2 separate regions of the Homo sapiens genome follow, and region 2 is linked to region 1. A link means that fine-mapping ties the variant in region 1 to the expression of a gene that starts in the linked region. Tissue or cell type: anterior cingulate cortex. Region 1 holds a variant in brackets; the other region holds the start of a gene. All regions are shown on one strand. Distances are between the middles of the regions.

Region 1 (8,255 bases):
TCCCCCGGGGCCACCCAGTCTCTCCCCTCCACCAATCCCCAGGGACAGGGCCCCAGGGAGGCTGTGGCACACGGGGACACACACACCACAGCCCTATCTCCCCCTCTGAGCCGGCTCAGCACCAGCTTGTCTTCATGGCTGACACCTCCATGTTCCTCGGGGGCCTCCAGGGACCCCATTAACTGTGAGCACAGACAGCCAACAGCCTGGGGAGCAGGACACAGAGAGAGGGTCTGGGGGACCAGGGGTGGCCCTGGGCCATCCCACAAGGAGGGGACAGCCATGGCCAGTGGCTGGGTTTTCTGATGGTCCAGAAACCAGAGAGTGCTCCTCCAAGCCTGGAACCCAGAACAGCCAGGAAGGGCAGGAGTCAATGAGGCATCTCCCAGCCCAGGTGTCAGGTGTCCGGTGCTTGTAGGACACGACCCCACCATGGAGGCCAGAAGCCTGTTCTTGCTCTCAGAGGACTCCCACCCCCGAGCACAGAGAGCAGGAAAACACCGAGACCAAGGCCAGCCTGCCCCAAAGGCCAGAGAGCAAGGTTCCTGAGTAAGGACATCCCCCCCAGACACGCTGGGTCCTCCCCAAGGGTGCTGGGTCCTCCCGGCTCCAAAGGCCAGAGAGCAAGGTTCCTGGGTGAGGGTGTCCCCCCAGACACACTGAGTCCTCCCCAAGGGTGCTGGGTCTTCCCCCCAAGTGTGCTGGGTCCTTCCTGCATATGCTGGGTCATTTCCTGGTATGCTGGCCCTGCTGGGTGTGCTGGGTCCTTCCTGGGTGTGCTAGGTCCTTCCTGCATATGCTGGTTCCTTCCTGGCGTGCTGGGTTCTCCTGGGTGTGCTGGGTCCTTGCGGGTGCACTGGGTCTTCCCTGGTGTGCTGGGTCCCCGTGGGTGTGCTGAGTCCTTTCCAGGTGTGCTGGGTCCTCCTGGGTGTGCTGGGTCCTGCTGGGTGTGCTAGGTCCTCCTGGGTGTGCTGGGTCCTCCTGGGTGTCCTGGGTCCTGCCAGGTGTGCTGGGTCCTCCTGGGTGTGCTGGGTCCTTCAGGGTGTACTGGGTCCTCCTGGGTGTGCTGGGTCCTCCTGGGTGTGCTGGGTCCTTCCTGGGTGTGCTGGGTTCTCCTGGGTGTGCTGGGTCCTTCCTGAGTGTGCTAGGTCCTTCCCGGGTGTGCTGGGTCTTTCCTGGGTGTGCTGGGTCCTTCCTGGTATGCTGGGTCCTCCCGGGTGTGCTGGGTCCTTCCTGAGTGTGTTAGGTTCTCCCAGCTATGCTGGGTTCTCTCAGGTGTGCTGGGTCCTCCTGGGTGTGCTGGGTCCTCCTGGGTGTGCTGGGTCCTTCCTGAGTGTGCTAGGTCCTTCCCGAGTGTGCTGGGTTCTCTCAGGTGTGCTGGGTCCTCCTGGGTGTGCTGGGTCCTCCTGGGTGTGCTGGGTCCTTCCTGGGTGTGCTGGGTCCTCCTGGGTGTGCTGGGTTCTCTCAGGTGTGCTGGGTCCTCCTGGGTGTGCTGGGTTCTCTCAGGTGTGCTGGGTCCTCCTGGGTGTGCTGGGTTCTCTCAGGTGTGCTGGGTCCTCCTGGGTGTGCTGGGTCCTTCCTGGGTGTGCTGGGTCCTTCCTGGGTGTGCTGGGTCCTCCCGGGTGTGCTGAGTCCTTCCTGAGTGTGTTAGGTTCTCCCAGGTATGCTGGGTTCTCTCAGGTATGCTGGGTCCTTCCTGTGTGTGATGGGTTCTCCTGAGTATGCTGGGTCCTCCTGGGTGTGCTGGGTCCTTCCTGGGTGTGCTGGGTCCTTCCTGGTGTACTGGGTCCTCCCAGGTGTGCTGGGTCCTTCCTGAGTGTGTTAGGTTCTCCCAGGTATGCTGGGTTCTCTCAGGTGTGCTGGGTCCTTCCTGTGTGTGCTGGGTTCTCCTGCGTATGCTGGGTCCTTCCTGGGTGTGCTGGGTCCTCCCTGTGTGTGCTGGGTTCTCCTGGGTGTGCTGGGTCCTTCCTGGGTGTGCTGGGTTCTCCTGGGTGTGCTGGGTCCTTCCTGGGTGTGCTGGGTTCTCCTGGGTGTGCTGGGTCCTTCCTGGGTGTGCTGGGTTCTTCTGGGTGTACTGAGTCCTTCCTGGGTGTGCTGGGTTCTCCTGGGTGTGCTGGGTCTTTCCTGGGTGTGCTGGGTTCTCCTGGGTATGCTGAGTTCTCTTGGGTGTGCTGGGTCCTCCCTGGTGGGCTGGGTTCCCTCAGGTGTGCTGGGTCCTTCCTGGTATGCTGGGTCCTCCTGTGTGTGCTGGGTCCTCCCTGGTGGGCTGTGTTCCCTCAGGTGTGCTGGGTCCTCCCTGGTATGCTGGGTCCTCCTGCGTGTGCTGCGTCCTTCCTGTGTGTGCTGGGTTCCCCCAGGTTTGCTGGGTCCTCCCAGGTGTGCTGGGTCCCCCCGCCAGGTAACCCCTAGTCCTCCTGGGGCATGCTAGGATCATTTCTCACACCAGACACAAAAAGCCTCCCCCAGGGTGGCCTCCTGGCTGAGCCAGCTCCAGGCCCAGATGGAAACCTTCTGCTTGGCTGCACCCAAAGGTAAGCACGGGAAACAGTGCGGGGAGCCTGGAACTACAGCCCAGGACCAGGGTCAGGTTAACCCGAGGCCACGTCCACAGGACAAAGCTGAGATGCCTCCCCAGGAATCAGCCCAGGCTGGGGCTGCTGCAGGCTGCAGGCCTCTGGACAAGGTCCCATGGCAGGGAGCAGGACCAGAGACAGCCCCAGCTCCAGCTCCAGCCAGGGAGTGCACAACATGGAGAGAGGCTGTGAAAAGAACATCCCTGCCCCAGAGCCCGCCCTTCCAGGAGCCCCGTCCTCCCCTCCCACCACTCCCTGGGGCACAGAGTCTGAGTCTGGCAGCGGCAGCTCCCAGGCCTGGCCGTGGCTGGTCGCCAAGAGCAGCCCTGGGTGGCGTCTGGAGCTCGGGCGAGGGGTCAGACTCCCACCCTCAGACACAGTGGGCAGCATTGAAAGGCAGTGGGGAGGGCCGCTTCCTCTCCATTAATCAATGGTCCCAGTTTAGAAACAGTCGCCCTGAGCCAACGCCAAGGGCTAAACGGGCTCAGGACACCACCCAGTCCTAGCCACCCAACCTTCTCCAAGGCTCTGCTTCCTGGCATAGCCTCAGGGCCCCAACAGCTGCCAGAGCCACCTCCAGCCCACACCCGAGAGGCCC[ACACCCGAGAGACCCC/A]CACTGAGGGCCTCCTGCTTGAGGCAGGGAAACCGAGGTTTCCTTCAAAGGTGCAGGACTCAGAGTGGGCCTGGGTGCTGAGGCTCCAGGCAGGACCACTGATGTCTCCCCCGGCTTGGCAGGCACACAGCAGGTACCCAGGAGCACCTGCCAGCTGGCCCCCAGCAACGCCTGGCTCCATCTCACCGAGAGAGGCCGAGGACCTTCTAGAAGCTTGGCTGACCCTTCCTTCATTCCCGACCCCGTACCTCAGGGCCAAAATGACTTTCTCCTCTGCTCTGCTCCTCTGCTCCTGTCTCTGTCCTGTCTGGAAACTTGTCCGGAACAAATTGCACCTCCCAAACCTTCCCCAGCCCACAGGCCCACCTCCTCCAGGAAGCCCTTGGGGCAGCCAAGCCTCTGATGGGCATCACTGGAACCCTGACCACTCACCTGGACCCAGGAGTGAGGGTGGCAACACTCTAGTGTGGTGGTGCTGGAGACCCGTCTGATCTGCCCCTTTGACTGGTGCCGGGGGTGGGGGGGTGGGAACTGAGGCCCAAAAGGGAATCAGAGCCAAAGGTTACTATTTATTTATTTACTTATTTATCTATTGAGACAGGGTCTTGCTCTGTCAGCTAGGCTGGAGTCCAGTGGCGCAATCTTGGCTCACTGCAACCTCCACCTCCCAGGTTCAATCAATCCTCCTGCCTCAGCCTCCTGGGTAGCTGGAATTAGAGGCGCCCGCCACCACACCTGGCTAATTTTTGTATTTTTGGTAGAGACGGGGTTTCACCATGTTGCTCAGGCTGGTCTCGAACTCCTGAGCTCAAGTGATACACGTGCCTCGGCCTCCCAAAGGACTGGGATTACAGGTGTGAGCCACCACGCCTGGCTTGAGCCAAAGGTTCTTGAACCAAGAAAGTACCTAGAGGTGACCCAGGCCTCATTTCTCAGAGCCTGCCCTTGTCCCATGAGGTCAGCTGAGACCAGATCAAGAGATCTGTAGAGACTTTTGTGACTTCGTGTACTACAAAAGACAAATCTATTAGGAGGTCATTTGTTCTCAGTAACTTTTTCTTGCTGGTCTTTTCATTACCAATTCTGAGCCAAGCCCAGGTCACCAGTGGGTGTTGGGGAAGGGGTGGGGGCATCCATCCACGCTTGCCAGAGCAGCGCACACAGGTGGGACCCGGGTGCAAAGGCAGGAAGAGGCCAGGTTTTCAGCTGTGAAAACTGTTCCTGGTTGGTCTGATGAAACTGATACTCTGATGGGACCCCAAAGTCCTCCCAGGGACAGGGGAGGGGGTCTTTAGAGTCCCCCTCGCTCCTTTGCAGACCCACAGGGCAAGGAAACTGGCAGTCCTGGGGGATCTTCCAAACCCTGGACCACTCTGGGAGACTCCACATGGCAGCTGGGTGCTCTTGTGTAATTACCCCAAGAGCCAGGGTATTAGTCCGTTTTCCAACTGCTGACATACCCTAGACTGGGCAATTTACAAAAGAAAGAGGTTTAATGGACTTACAGTTCCACGTGGCTGGGGAGGCCTCACAATCATGGCAGAAGGCAAGGAGGAGCAAGTCACATCTTACATGGATGGCAGCAGGCAAAGAGAGAGAGCTTGTGCGGGGAAACTCCCCCTTATAAACCATCAGATCTCATGAGACTTATTCACTATCACGAGAACAGCACGGGAAAGACCTGCCCCCATGACTCAACCACCTTCCACTGGGTCCCTCCCATGACACGTGGGAATTATGGGACATACAAGATGAGATTTCGGTAGGGACACAGCCAAACCATATCAGCTGGGGACAAAGTCTGCACCTGAGCCATCACAATGGTTGTCCCTGCCATGACCCCCACTTCCCGACCCTTCTGCCAGGCCCACTCCGGGCCTCACCTACGTGGACTCACGCAACCTGCACAAAACATCGCCAAATCTCCTCCCTGCTGAACAGAAGGGGGACTGGGGTCCAAGAGGTGGAGTAGGTTACCCCGGTCACACAGGCACAGGCCTGGGGAACACCAAAGCCAGCCCTGGACAAAATGAGCGGCTGGCCCTGACTGTGACTGCGCCGAGGCCTGCACTGGGCCGGGGAAGCCTTCACTGCAGGGCCTGCCCAGCGCCGGGCCCTCCACCCTCCGGGCAGACAGGCCCGCTTTGTGCTCCCACGGCTCCCGCTGCTTCTGCGGAAGGGCTCCCAGGGCCTCAGGGAAACACTGCTGCAAAGTCCCCGCCCGCTGCAGACCCGAGACTTGCCATCTGGGCCAAGGAGGGAGAGCTGGGGCTGTGGGCAGCAGGGAGGGCTCCTTCCCCCCACTGCCCTCCATAGCTGCCCAGAGAGTTCCTGTCTCCCTCCCCAACTCCTTTGTTCAAATGAAATAATTTGGGGGAACCAGAAAATATGGCTTTTATTTTCAAAACTGGAATCAATTATAATTGGGGGGTTAGTGAAATATTCCCAACTGCGTTTGAGCTCAGGTCTGCAGTCCCCAGACCCAGAGTGGAGGAGGGACAGGAAGGTGATGGTGAGAGGTCTAGGTGGGAGCACTATGGGCAGGGGCTACACCTGCAGGCAGCACCCCCTCAGCCCTGGTCCTGCACACCTGGCCCTGCAAACCCGGCCTGCACACTCAGCCCTGCACACTCAGTCCTGTACACTCAGTCCTGCACCCTCAGCCCTGCACACTCCACCCTGCATGCCCAGCCCTGCACATTCCACCCCTGCACACCTGGCCCTGCACACTCCACCCCTGCAGGCCTGGCCCTGCACATCCAGCTCTACACACTCCATCCTGCATGCCCAGCCCTGCACACTCCACCCCCGCACACCTGGCCCTGCACACTCCACCCCTGCACACCTGGCCCTGCACACTCCACCCCTGCACACCTGGCCCTGCACATCCAGCTCTGCACACTCCATCCTGCATGCCCAGCCCTGCACACTCCACCCCTGCACACCTGGCCCTGCACACTCCACCCCTGCACACCTGGCCCTGCACACCCAGCTCTACACACTCCATCCTGAATGTCCAGCCCTGCATAATTGAGCCCCGCACCCTCGGCTCTGCACACCCAGCCTCCATACCCTCCCCTTCTTCCGAGAGAGTGACCAGCGAGGAGGCCGGGCAGCCACCCTCCAGCTTGTCAACTGCCCCCTGTGAAGGCCACGTCTGCCCCAACTGGCCACTCTCCCAGGAGGCCCGCTACCCAAGGGCCACAAGCCAGCCACAGGGGAGGATGCTCCTGCCCTGCAGGGGACCCTGCTCCCCTCTCCTCCAAAGCAAATCTCAACAGCTCCCCCGGGACCAAGGCTTGTCCCTGCACCAGGTGGCAGCATGGCCAGAAGGGAGCACATGGCACTCCTCAGACAGACCTGGCTTCAGCCCCAACTAGGCTGCTTGTGAGCTGAGCACCAGCAGCTGCTGGGTCTCCTCAACCTTGCTTTCCTCTTTCATGAAGCAAATGAAGTGTGGAGCTGATGAGGTGACGCAGGCAGAGAGTGGCCCAGAGCCAGGAGGGAGCTCCCAGCCTCCAGCCTCCCTGCTCTGCGGTGCGTTCCCACGGTGACTGGGGCATGGGGCTGCTGCTGTGGATGCTGAGCCCCGGGCCCAGGCACCGTGAGAGTCTGTGACACAGAAGTCAGAGCCAAGAGGCTGGTGGGGCGCAGGGAACCTGAGTGCACCCCACCCCCAAGCACCCAAGCATGGGCATCTGAGCCCACTCCGCAGTGCTGGCCTGGGCCTGGGGAAGACAGGCCCCTCCCACTGGGCATGGAGCCCCCCCAACAATGCCAAACCCCCAAAGATGCAGAGCCCTCGCCCCACGCTGGACACTGAGCCTCCACGAGACGCCGAGTTCCCCCACAGGGTGTGCAGCCCGCAGTGAGCCTCCTGCAAGCCCTGTGCCTGCCGATGCCCCGGGGTCCACGCGTCAGGGTCTCATGGAGCAGGGGGCTTGGAGCTGGCTCCTGACAAAGATGAGGTGGGAGGAGGGGACTGACGGTGGGCAGAAGGCCAGCCCTGAGGGGGCAGGTCAGGTGTCCTCCCTCCCCTCCCAGAGGACACGGCCAGGAAAGGCCACCCCGCAAGGCCACCTCCTCCTCGCCCTCCCCTAGGAACAGAGACCACAGGAGGCTCTGCTTGGCCGACCAGTGAGCCACAGCCCCGTCCCGGAAACCTCCCCAGCCTGCCCAGTCAGCCCTGGTATTTCCGCGTGAAACCAAAGTCAAGCGGCGCACATTGCCAAAAGATTAGACAAATGAGACGGAAAGGCCCTCGGGACATTTCTCAACTCCCACCTGTGGCCAAATGACAGCTCCCAAGAAGCCAAACGTGACAGTGGAGCCCACTCCATCCTGTGTGGACCCCACCTGTCCTCGGAACAGGGATGGGTCACCTCTGACCAGCCCGCAGAGGGACCACAGGGAGGCCTGGCCAAGGCCTGCAGCCTGGATGTCACAGGGCAATGACAGGGCAGGGGCCCTGGGGGGGGGGGGCCCTTTCGTCCACACGAGACAGACAGATCTCAGTCCATGGTCACTGCAGCAGCCCTCCCAGCCACCCAGCATCCAGGAAGCAGCAGGCACTCGCGGTGACTCGGCAGGGGCCGTCCCAGCTAACAGAGGACATTCAATAAACCCTCCAGCACCAACTGTCCGCCTTTCCAACAATGGCCAATGCCCCAGGCTGCTGGCACCCAGCTCAGAACTCTGGGGAGACCCAGCACCTCTGCAGAACCCCTCCTCAGCCTGGTCCCCAGCGGAACGTGGAGTGGGCAGGAGTGTCACCCAGCTCAGAACGCTGGGGAGACCCAGCACCTCTGCAGAACCCCTCCTCAGCCCGGCCCCCAGCGCAACGTGGAGTGGGCAGGGGTGTCCTTCACAAACACGGGGACCTCCTGATTCATCCGATTTCCTCGAATCGCTTCCTGCTGCCTGCCTGGGCACCGGAGTGCATCTCTCGCTCTGCCCTGGCATCTGCCTGGCATGGAGCCCCGGTGGCCACCACACGAGCAGTCCCAAAGCCCCAGGGCCACTGGGAGTGTTTCATGCCATCGGGACGGCCGTGGCTCAGGCTGTCTGAG
Region 2 (8,000 bases), 120 kb before region 1:
CACTACGTCGCTGCCTTCTCTCCAGGACTCTTTCGGGGCTCCCCTGCACTGCTGCCTTCTCTCCAGGACTCTCTCCATAGTCCTTGGCCTCCTTGGCTCCCCAACTCTGTCCCCTGTAGCCCAGTGAGGCCACCAGCCTCTCTTGGCCAAAGGCTTATTTACCTCTTTCTCCAGGAATTTCTGTCTCTGCACCTGTTGTCCAGTGTTAGAAAGAGTTGTTTCTCGTATTTTTTGTTCCATGTTTGAGTTGTTTGTGGTGACAGACAAGTCTGGTACCGACTACTTCGTCATGGCCAAAACACCTGACATGTTTTAAATTCTCAATTTGGGGAAGATACATGGGGTTGCTTTTATATATTTTTATATAAAAATATAAATACTATATGCATGTCTTTGTAAACCAGAAATGGTCCCTAATGATGACTAGGGATCCTGGGCTTTGGCGTCAGACAGACCTGGGCTCTAACTGTGGCTGGGCCACTTACCAGCCAGGTAACAAGGGGCAAAACATTTCTCCTCTCAGTTAAGCGGGGGGCATCTGAGGGGCTTTCTGTAAGAATTCACTAAGATGACGCGTGCAAGGCCCCCAGCATGAGGCTGGCACATAGTAGGTGCTTAATGGGAAGTAATGACCTGCTATTTTAGGGTACAAGGAGGAGGGGCATTTGCTCCTCAAACCCAACCTTCTTCCCACCAGCCCGGCCCCCCCAGCCATGGGCCTCCACCCACCCAGCAGAGGCGTCTCTGTCCTCCATCCCACTCACAGCCGCGCCCTTGGGGCCCTTTCCCAGCTGCCTACGGGCTGGAGAGGACACCCATGGAACTGCAGTGGGTAACAGGGCAGCCCAGCGTTGAGGGCCTGAGAACTGAGGGCTGTCATGGCCTTCCCTCCACCCCGTGTGCTCCTTAGGGCCCCAGGGAGGGAGGGGAGCAGGTGGGAGCACCGCCCACTCGGCCTGGCAGGGAGGACAAACCTGCCCAGCAGCCTCAGCTCACCCTCAGCCCTGGACACCTACCCTGGAAGGTCGAGCCAAAAGGCCTCCCGAGGGGCTGCTGGCCTCAGGTACCACCTAAGGCTACGGGCTGTCTGTGCTGTGGCCCCAGTGGCTGAGTAAAAGCTTGGAAAACTCAAAGCAAGGCCCGCAGGAGCTCAGGCCACCTCAAGCCGCAGGAAAGGAGCTCTGCTCCCGCAGATAGAGGTGTGCTTTCTGGCTGGCACACTGGTGCTCGGCCAGAGCGCTGCCCACCCTACAGCAATGCACAGTGGCTGTTAAGCTTGGGGGATCCACATCTTCTCCCCTGCCAGTAATGTGGGAGGGGAAGGCCCCCAGGGCAGGCTGAGCCACAGGCTCGGGATCCCACCACAGAGGTGCAGGAAGTGCCACGGGCCGACCCCACTGGCAGGCCTCCCACTGGCAGGCCTCCCCGGAGTCTCTCTCTCCTTGCGAGCCCCTTAGGTCTCCAAGCTGGTTCCTTCCAACCTCTCCCTTAGGCCTCATGCCAGGGCGATCTCCTGCGCCAGCATCAGGCCCTCATTTACAGCAGAGGTGACAGAGGCACAGAGAGGTCCTGACGCCAGCTCAGGTGACATCCCCAGCAAAGGGACCATCCCAAGCACACGCTGAGTGGCCTCTGGAAGCCAGCAGGACATGGGGAGACGAAGCCAGACCCAGGGTGGCTGAACGGGCCCAGCAGGGGCTGGACAGAAGGTGTGGGGTTGGGGGTAACTTGGAGGCAGCTACTGAAAGAGGGTTTTACAGGAAAGCACTCAGTGGGAATCAGGAACCTGGGTCCTGCTGACTGGCCTGGGGCAAGGCTTCTGTCCCCTCACTGGGCCTCAGTGACCCCACCGCACCTCAGTCCCCTCACGGGTCAAGGCTCCGGGACACCCCAGCTCCCTCCGGCAGGCCGGGCCTCGTCGGTGCAGTACCCATCATGGACTCAGGAGGGCAGCAGCCACCTGCCTTTCCCAAGAGCTGCCTGGAAGTGGAACCTCCCCACAGGCGGCTCCAGGTGGAGGCTGCAGCCCACAGGGGTCAACTCTTAGCTCCTCCCTCATCCACCCTCCCTCCCAGGGGATGGATGGCCCACGGGACCCATCCCTGAGGCCAGCCTGTGCCCTGCCCAGATGGCACCTGACACCCAGGCAGCCCCAGCCACAGGGCAGACATTGGGGGACTAGTGGGTGGGGCGACCAGAGCAGGAGGGGCAGGGCAGGCCGCCCCTCTACCTATGACACCTGAGAAAATGCCAAGTGACAGCCCCAGAGCCTGTGGTGTCTCCTCAACCCGCAACGGGATCTCACGGCCGCCCAGGCCAGGGAGGCAGGTCCTGGGAGGAGGGTGGTCAGTGCCTCTGGCTGGCACACCGGTGCCCGGCCCACGACCCCAAGGCCTGGGGTCAGTGAGGGGACGCTGGTAGAAGCTGACCCAAAGCCCAGTGTGGATGTTCACATGGAGGCCTTTGGCAACAGGCCTTTCCTGAAAAGGGGATGATGGAGGCAGGTCAGAAGTGGGTCTGAGCCCTGGGACCTCAGGTCACATTCCTGAATGGCCAGGCCCAAGCTTGGGAGGCTTGGCTCAGCCCCCAGCCCCTCCCACAGCACCAGGTGGCCTGATTCCTGAACCCCCAGCTGGGGGGCTGCTGCAGCCTCTGCCCGGGGCCCTCCCTCACTTTCACACGGGTTCCCAGCAGGCGGAGCAAGGAAAGGCCAGGCTCGGAGTCCAGGCTCAGCCTTGTGCACGAGGGCGAGCGCCTTCCTTTCCAGGACTCGGTCCTTCTCTGTGAAATGGGGATGACCGCGACTCAACCACACCAAAAAGGTGGCCAGAGTGCTTTGCGCCCTCTTGGCTGTCTTTGGCCGCCTGGCTTCCAAGAATCCAGAGGGCCGGGCCTTTCTACAGCAAACATCGGTCCCCGCAGGGCTGGTCTCCTTCCCCGAAGGCTTCCTGGAGGAGGCAGTGGAGCGGGGCCTGGAAGGACAGTGACGCAGGAGGGAGCCGAGCCGCTCTGGCCCCACGCCTGGCAGGCGACTCCCGGGCCGGCCTCGAGGGGGCGTGGGCGCGGGGAGGGAAGGCGCAGGCACCGGGCGGCGGCGGCTCGGCGGGAATCGAGAGGCGCGATCCAGTCCGGGCGATCACGTGGGCTCCAGCCGGCCCAGGTGGGGCTGTGACCTGTGACGCAGGCGGCGCCGCCACAGGTGCCCGGGACGCGCCCCGCCCCCTCCCCGGCCCTCCCCGCCCGGGCCCTCGGACCCGGAGCAGCCCCGCCCGCCCAGCGCCCACCTGCGGGGCCGCAGCCGCCGCCCTCCAGCCAGACCGCGCAGGAAGCGGAGGAGGCGCCCCGGGCCGGACCGCGCTGCCGCAGGAGCGAAGCGGCTGCAGGACAGGACAGGACCCGGCGCTGGAAGCTGCACCGCCAGCGCGCCGCCCCTCCGTCCCTCCGCCCCGCGGCGCAGGTGAGCCTGGGGGACAGGTGAGCCGGGGGACAGGTGAGTCGGGGCTCGGGGGAGCCGGGTGGGGGGATTAGCCCGGGGGAGGCGCCGGGAACCCGGGGCGCTTCTCCTCCCCCTCGCTTTTCCCGCAAGCCCCGCCCCGGCAGCCGCAACAACTTCGCGACCCTCCTGGGGCTCCGCCGGGGCGGGAGAGGCGGGGCTCGCGGGCTGAGCCGGATGCGACTTTGGACCCGCCCCCCCACACACACCAGGCAGCCCCCTGCTTGCCCCCGCCCGCTCGCTCGCTGCCCTCTCTTGACCCCGAGTGGCCGCTTCCTCTTCCTAAAGGAAAACTTCCATGCAACCGGAACCTGGGTTCAGACTTGAGCGCCGAGGACTCTGGAAGCCCCAGGGAGTTTGAAAGAGCATGGGGTGGGGGGCGGAACAGAACGACCCTCCCGGGAGCTCTTTGGGGAATCTGACACCCAAACCTGCTTTGGCCCCAAAATTTCAGAAAAGCCCCGAGAAGGAAGAACCCCACACCCAAGACAAACCCAAACCATACGCCCCTCCCCCACCCTTGACCTTGGTGGGCGGTGGCAGGGAGGGACCTGCTTTGTCTCCCCTGAGAAGGGAGATGGGGAGGGGGAGGGGTGCGTCCCACCTACCAGGGAGCCGTGGCCGCTTGTCTTGGCCGCTCAGCCTCTTTCTGCGTCTGTGAAATGGGAACAGTATCCCTTTTGAGATTTGAGCAGGTGGGGGGACTGAGGGAGTGGCAGCGATGGCAGGTCTTGGTGACCTCTGCTTCTGACCTGAATCAAGGCCTGAATCTTCTCTGTGTCCTTGAGGGGAACAGTCTGTGCACCACCTAACATGGGGGCCTAGGGGGTGCGTGTGGGCCTGGCTGGGGGTCCAGCAAGAGGGTCCAGGTGCTGTGCCTGGCTGCAGGTCCTGACCCCTCCGTGGCATAGTTCCCAGGTGTGTGGGTTTCAGGCTCACATCCTGGCTCTTTGTGAACTAAGCAGCTCTTGGGGCCTCGGTTTCCTCATCCGTAAAATGGGACTAGTAGGAGTGTTGAGTTAGAAGATGTTGACCCACAAGTGTGCCAGGCAGACGTGGACCCTGCTGTGCGATGCCCACAGCCAGCAGAGGGGAACAGGGTGAGATGAAAGGTACTGTCCAGAGCAGGAGCCATGGGCTGAAGGTAGGCACTCCTCACCCACCCCAGTCTTGCTGGAAGGGAGGTGTCTTGGGGGCTTCCTGGAAGAAGTAAGTCACCTGGACCAAAGTCACCTGGAGGGTGGGATGGGCCCTCCCTCCACCTGGACACTGGGGAGAAACCCTTGTTGGGGGGCCTCCCTGAGGTCGCTGGCTCTTCGGGGGCCATCTCTGACCCACAGGACCACCCTATGTGGGAAGCACTTTCCACCTACACATGAGGAAACTGAGGCACAGAGGTGAAGCAGTGAGAAGCGGCGTGCCAGGGTCCCCACAGCTCACATGTGACGCGCAGGTCCCCATCCTGAGGATGGCCATCTGTGTTCACGTTGTGATCCAGGCGCAGGCGCTCCCCGCGAGTTTGGGTCTGAGTTTTAGTTTTGGTTTCCAGATGGATCTGGGCTGCTCCTGTCCTTAGCACAGGGGACCATCCGTCTGGAGCAGCGTCCTTATTTCTAGTGACTCCCTGGCTGAGGCCAGAACCCCCACTCCCCCCGGTCCCCATTTGGGGACAGCCATCCAGGTCAGGACAGGGCCTGGCCAGCAGTCCCACCCCCGCAGGCCACATTCCCTCTGCACCTGGTTTCCTTACCTGCCCGGGAAAATACCCACCTTCCAGAAGTTTGGGGAGGGGCAGAAGACAGTGGATGACAGGGCATTCAGAGGGCACTGTCTGTGTGTCTGTCCTACAGCGGGTGAACGGGTGGCAGGAGACCTGTCACCCACACGGGCACCTGTCAGAGGCAGGCTCTGATTCCCACCCTTTGGGGGAACCCCGTGAGTGGCAGCAGAGCCAGGGACAGCAGCTGGGTTTATGGGATGTCTCATTCAGAGCCGGAGCTGGGGAGTGACTGGAATGCACTTTGGGCTGAACCAGCTATGTCCAGGTGGGAGGGCCAGGTGCACTTCCCCGCCCCCACCGCGCAGGGTGGCTCTCTGCTTAGCTGCCTAGGATTTCCCTACCGCAGCCCTAGGGACCTTGATCCAGATAACAGGTCTCTCCAGCAGCCTTGCCAACCAGTAGCCAGGACTCCTGACTACCAGCAGTGTCCCCAGACGTTGGCAAATGTGCCCTGGGGGCCAAAACTGCCCCAGTGAAGGCCGCAGAGCCAAATCCCTGGCCACCTTGCAAACGGAGCTGGCTGATGTGTGCTGCATGATTTGCAAAAGCAAGTCCTCCCCCCGATTATGTGACTGAGTCCGAAGTTTGACGGGCAGAATTACCGGAGTACAAGGGCATCATTGTAGCTTGAGTTTGCCTTCACTGAGGTTGGATGGACAGGTGCTAGAGAGGCCGCGCCCCACTGGGCCGAGTGGGGTCAGCCGGACCTAGAGGCCAGGGTAGGAGGGACAGAAATGCCTGAGGGTGGGACCACATGAAGCTGGAGGCCTGTGCAACATCCTAACCGGAGGGGCAGCAAACTTGGGGCAATTGGGTCCTGGTGGCCGTGACAGCAGCTGTGCCCAGAGCCCAAGGCGCTGGCTGGGAGATTGTACTGCTATGGGGATGCTGGAGGCACGGGGCTGGCGCCCACTAGACTCACTAGAAGCCCATCTCTCCGGAAGGATAAGGGGGCAGGAGGGCGGGGCTACAGAGCGGCCCACCCAACCAACACTGGGTCCGAGATCCAGCAGATCAGCCAAGGCCAAGTACGGACAGGAACGGACAGGCTGGGCAGGGGGCCCTGAGACTGGCCAGCGACCACAGATTCCACCTGCTTGGACCGGCCAGGCGGGGGCCCCTGAGACTGCCCAGAGACCATGGATTCCGCCTGCTCGCCTCTGCTGCACGCCTCCTCCTGGCAAGTCCCTCATGCCCCATAACTATATGTGTTGGGGATACCAGGTGGGGTATTTAGTGGTAAAGAGAAAAGAGAGAGTTCTGGGCCCCAGGGCTCAGCCATGGGAGGTCCTTTCCAGCCCACCCTGAGGAGAAGCAGCAGGAAGTCGCCCAAAAAGTGGCACAGATGGGCCCAGAACCTCTATGGGGCTGCCCTGGCCCAGCCTCTGCTCATTTTGAGCCAAGTCCCCTTGCAAGTTGGTTCTTGGCACGGAACACCAGGGCCTCTCTGGGAAGACACAGAATCAAGGTACTAGGAGACCAGGGCAGAGCACGTGCCGAGGCAGGCATTTGCTCTTCAGTGTGGAATCTGAGCCCGACTGTGGGGACACGAACAGGAAACTGTCCCTGCCCCGCAAGGGCTCACAGACATGGGGAGACAGGACAGCCAGCCAGCCAGCCTGCGGCTCCCTCTGCCCTGTGCATGCCCTGTGCTAAGCCCCCACTCAGCAAGTCAGGGCTGCCTTTGCTGGGGAGCAGATCTGCCACTGGCCCACGTGGCTGCTGCAGGAAATCTGACCTCTCTCTGTGGCACTGCAGCCGGGACAGCATGGCCAGCTGCTGAAAGGAGTCTGCCCTCTCAGCCCCTCCCCTTCACTGGCTCCACCAGGAGCCGACCAGCATCTCAGTGAGGAAATGGAAAGAGGCCACTGTAGAAACCAGCCGGCCTGCAGGACAGGCTTCAGGATATGGACCTGGCATGGGGCTGGGGGTCCCATTGGGCCCTCCCGGTCAGACACCTGTGCTCAGGGTGTGTGCACTTGGACCTCCCGCCATCATAAGGCCTGTCTCCTCAATAGAAGCAGAAACAATCAACCACCAGCAGCAGATGTTTGAGGAAAGCCCTGTGCCTGAGAGACAGAGGCCAGCAGAGGCGGAGACAGGAGGAAGTATGTGGCAGGGGCGCAGCTCCAGCAGCCAGCGACAGAAAGAAAGAAACTCGCTCCAAAGAAAATGTAATCCTTCCTCTCTAAGACAATAGAAGATGTTACACCCATAAAGCAAGAGCAGGATGCCAGGAATGAAGAGCAGAGGGCTCTTTGAGGATAATGAAAATGATAAGACCAGGGGCCAATAAGAAGTCCAAGTAGAGAAAACCTCACACAGAGAACAAAGTAGGGGAGGAAAGGTAAGGAATTAGGAGAAAACACCAGAGCTTAATACTCATTAGTGGGTATTCCAAAAAGAGAAAACAGAGTGGAAGAAATAATATGAAAATCTGCGCAGCCCTAGACAAGAGTGACCGCCTGGCAGGGTTCCACCCAGTGCCTGGCTCAGTGGACTAACATGGACCCTACGGGGGCACATCAGCACGACAATCAGAGCTCCCAGGCTGGCTCAGTGAACGAACACGGACCCTACCGAGGCACATCAGCAAGACAGCCAGAGCTCCCAGGCTCCAGCAGGTGCGCCAGACCCTCAGTGGGGCCAGGGAGAACCACACACCGGTTGTGATCCGAGAAAGAGATCGGGACATTGGGGCCCTTCCCCAGCAACTCTGACAACAAG

Which allele goes with the higher level. Positions count from the first base shown, and alleles are read on the strand shown. Sizes are in standard deviations (SD) of each study's normalised expression.
In carriers of allele ACACCCGAGAGACCCC in region 1, the expression in anterior cingulate cortex of the gene that starts at base 3,311 in region 2 tends to be higher than with A alone (large effect, 1.4 SD a copy in GTEx).

The links. PIP is the estimated chance that this variant, and not a neighbour inherited with it, causes the effect.
Region 2: it holds the start of ARHGEF16, and the variant in region 1 is fine-mapped to the expression of ARHGEF16 in anterior cingulate cortex (GTEx, PIP above 0.99).

Annotation. Positions count from the first base shown.
Region 1 is chr1:3,570,881-3,579,135 of GRCh38, forward strand. All of the region lies in intron 4 of MEGF6 (multiple EGF like domains 6), which reads right to left. Among named protein-coding and RNA genes, the nearest start is that of MIR551A, 14 kb to the left of the region's middle. RefSeq lists an enhancer at 6,083-6,582. The variant ACACCCGAGAGACCCC/A (reference allele first, on the strand shown) is at 3,172.
Region 2 is chr1:3,451,355-3,459,354 of GRCh38, forward strand. It overlaps ARHGEF16 (Rho guanine nucleotide exchange factor 16), which reads left to right and starts at 3,311. Exons shown (of 15, transcript NM_014448.4): 1 at 3,311-3,457. RefSeq lists enhancers at 1,393-2,145, 5,907-6,658, 7,178-7,347.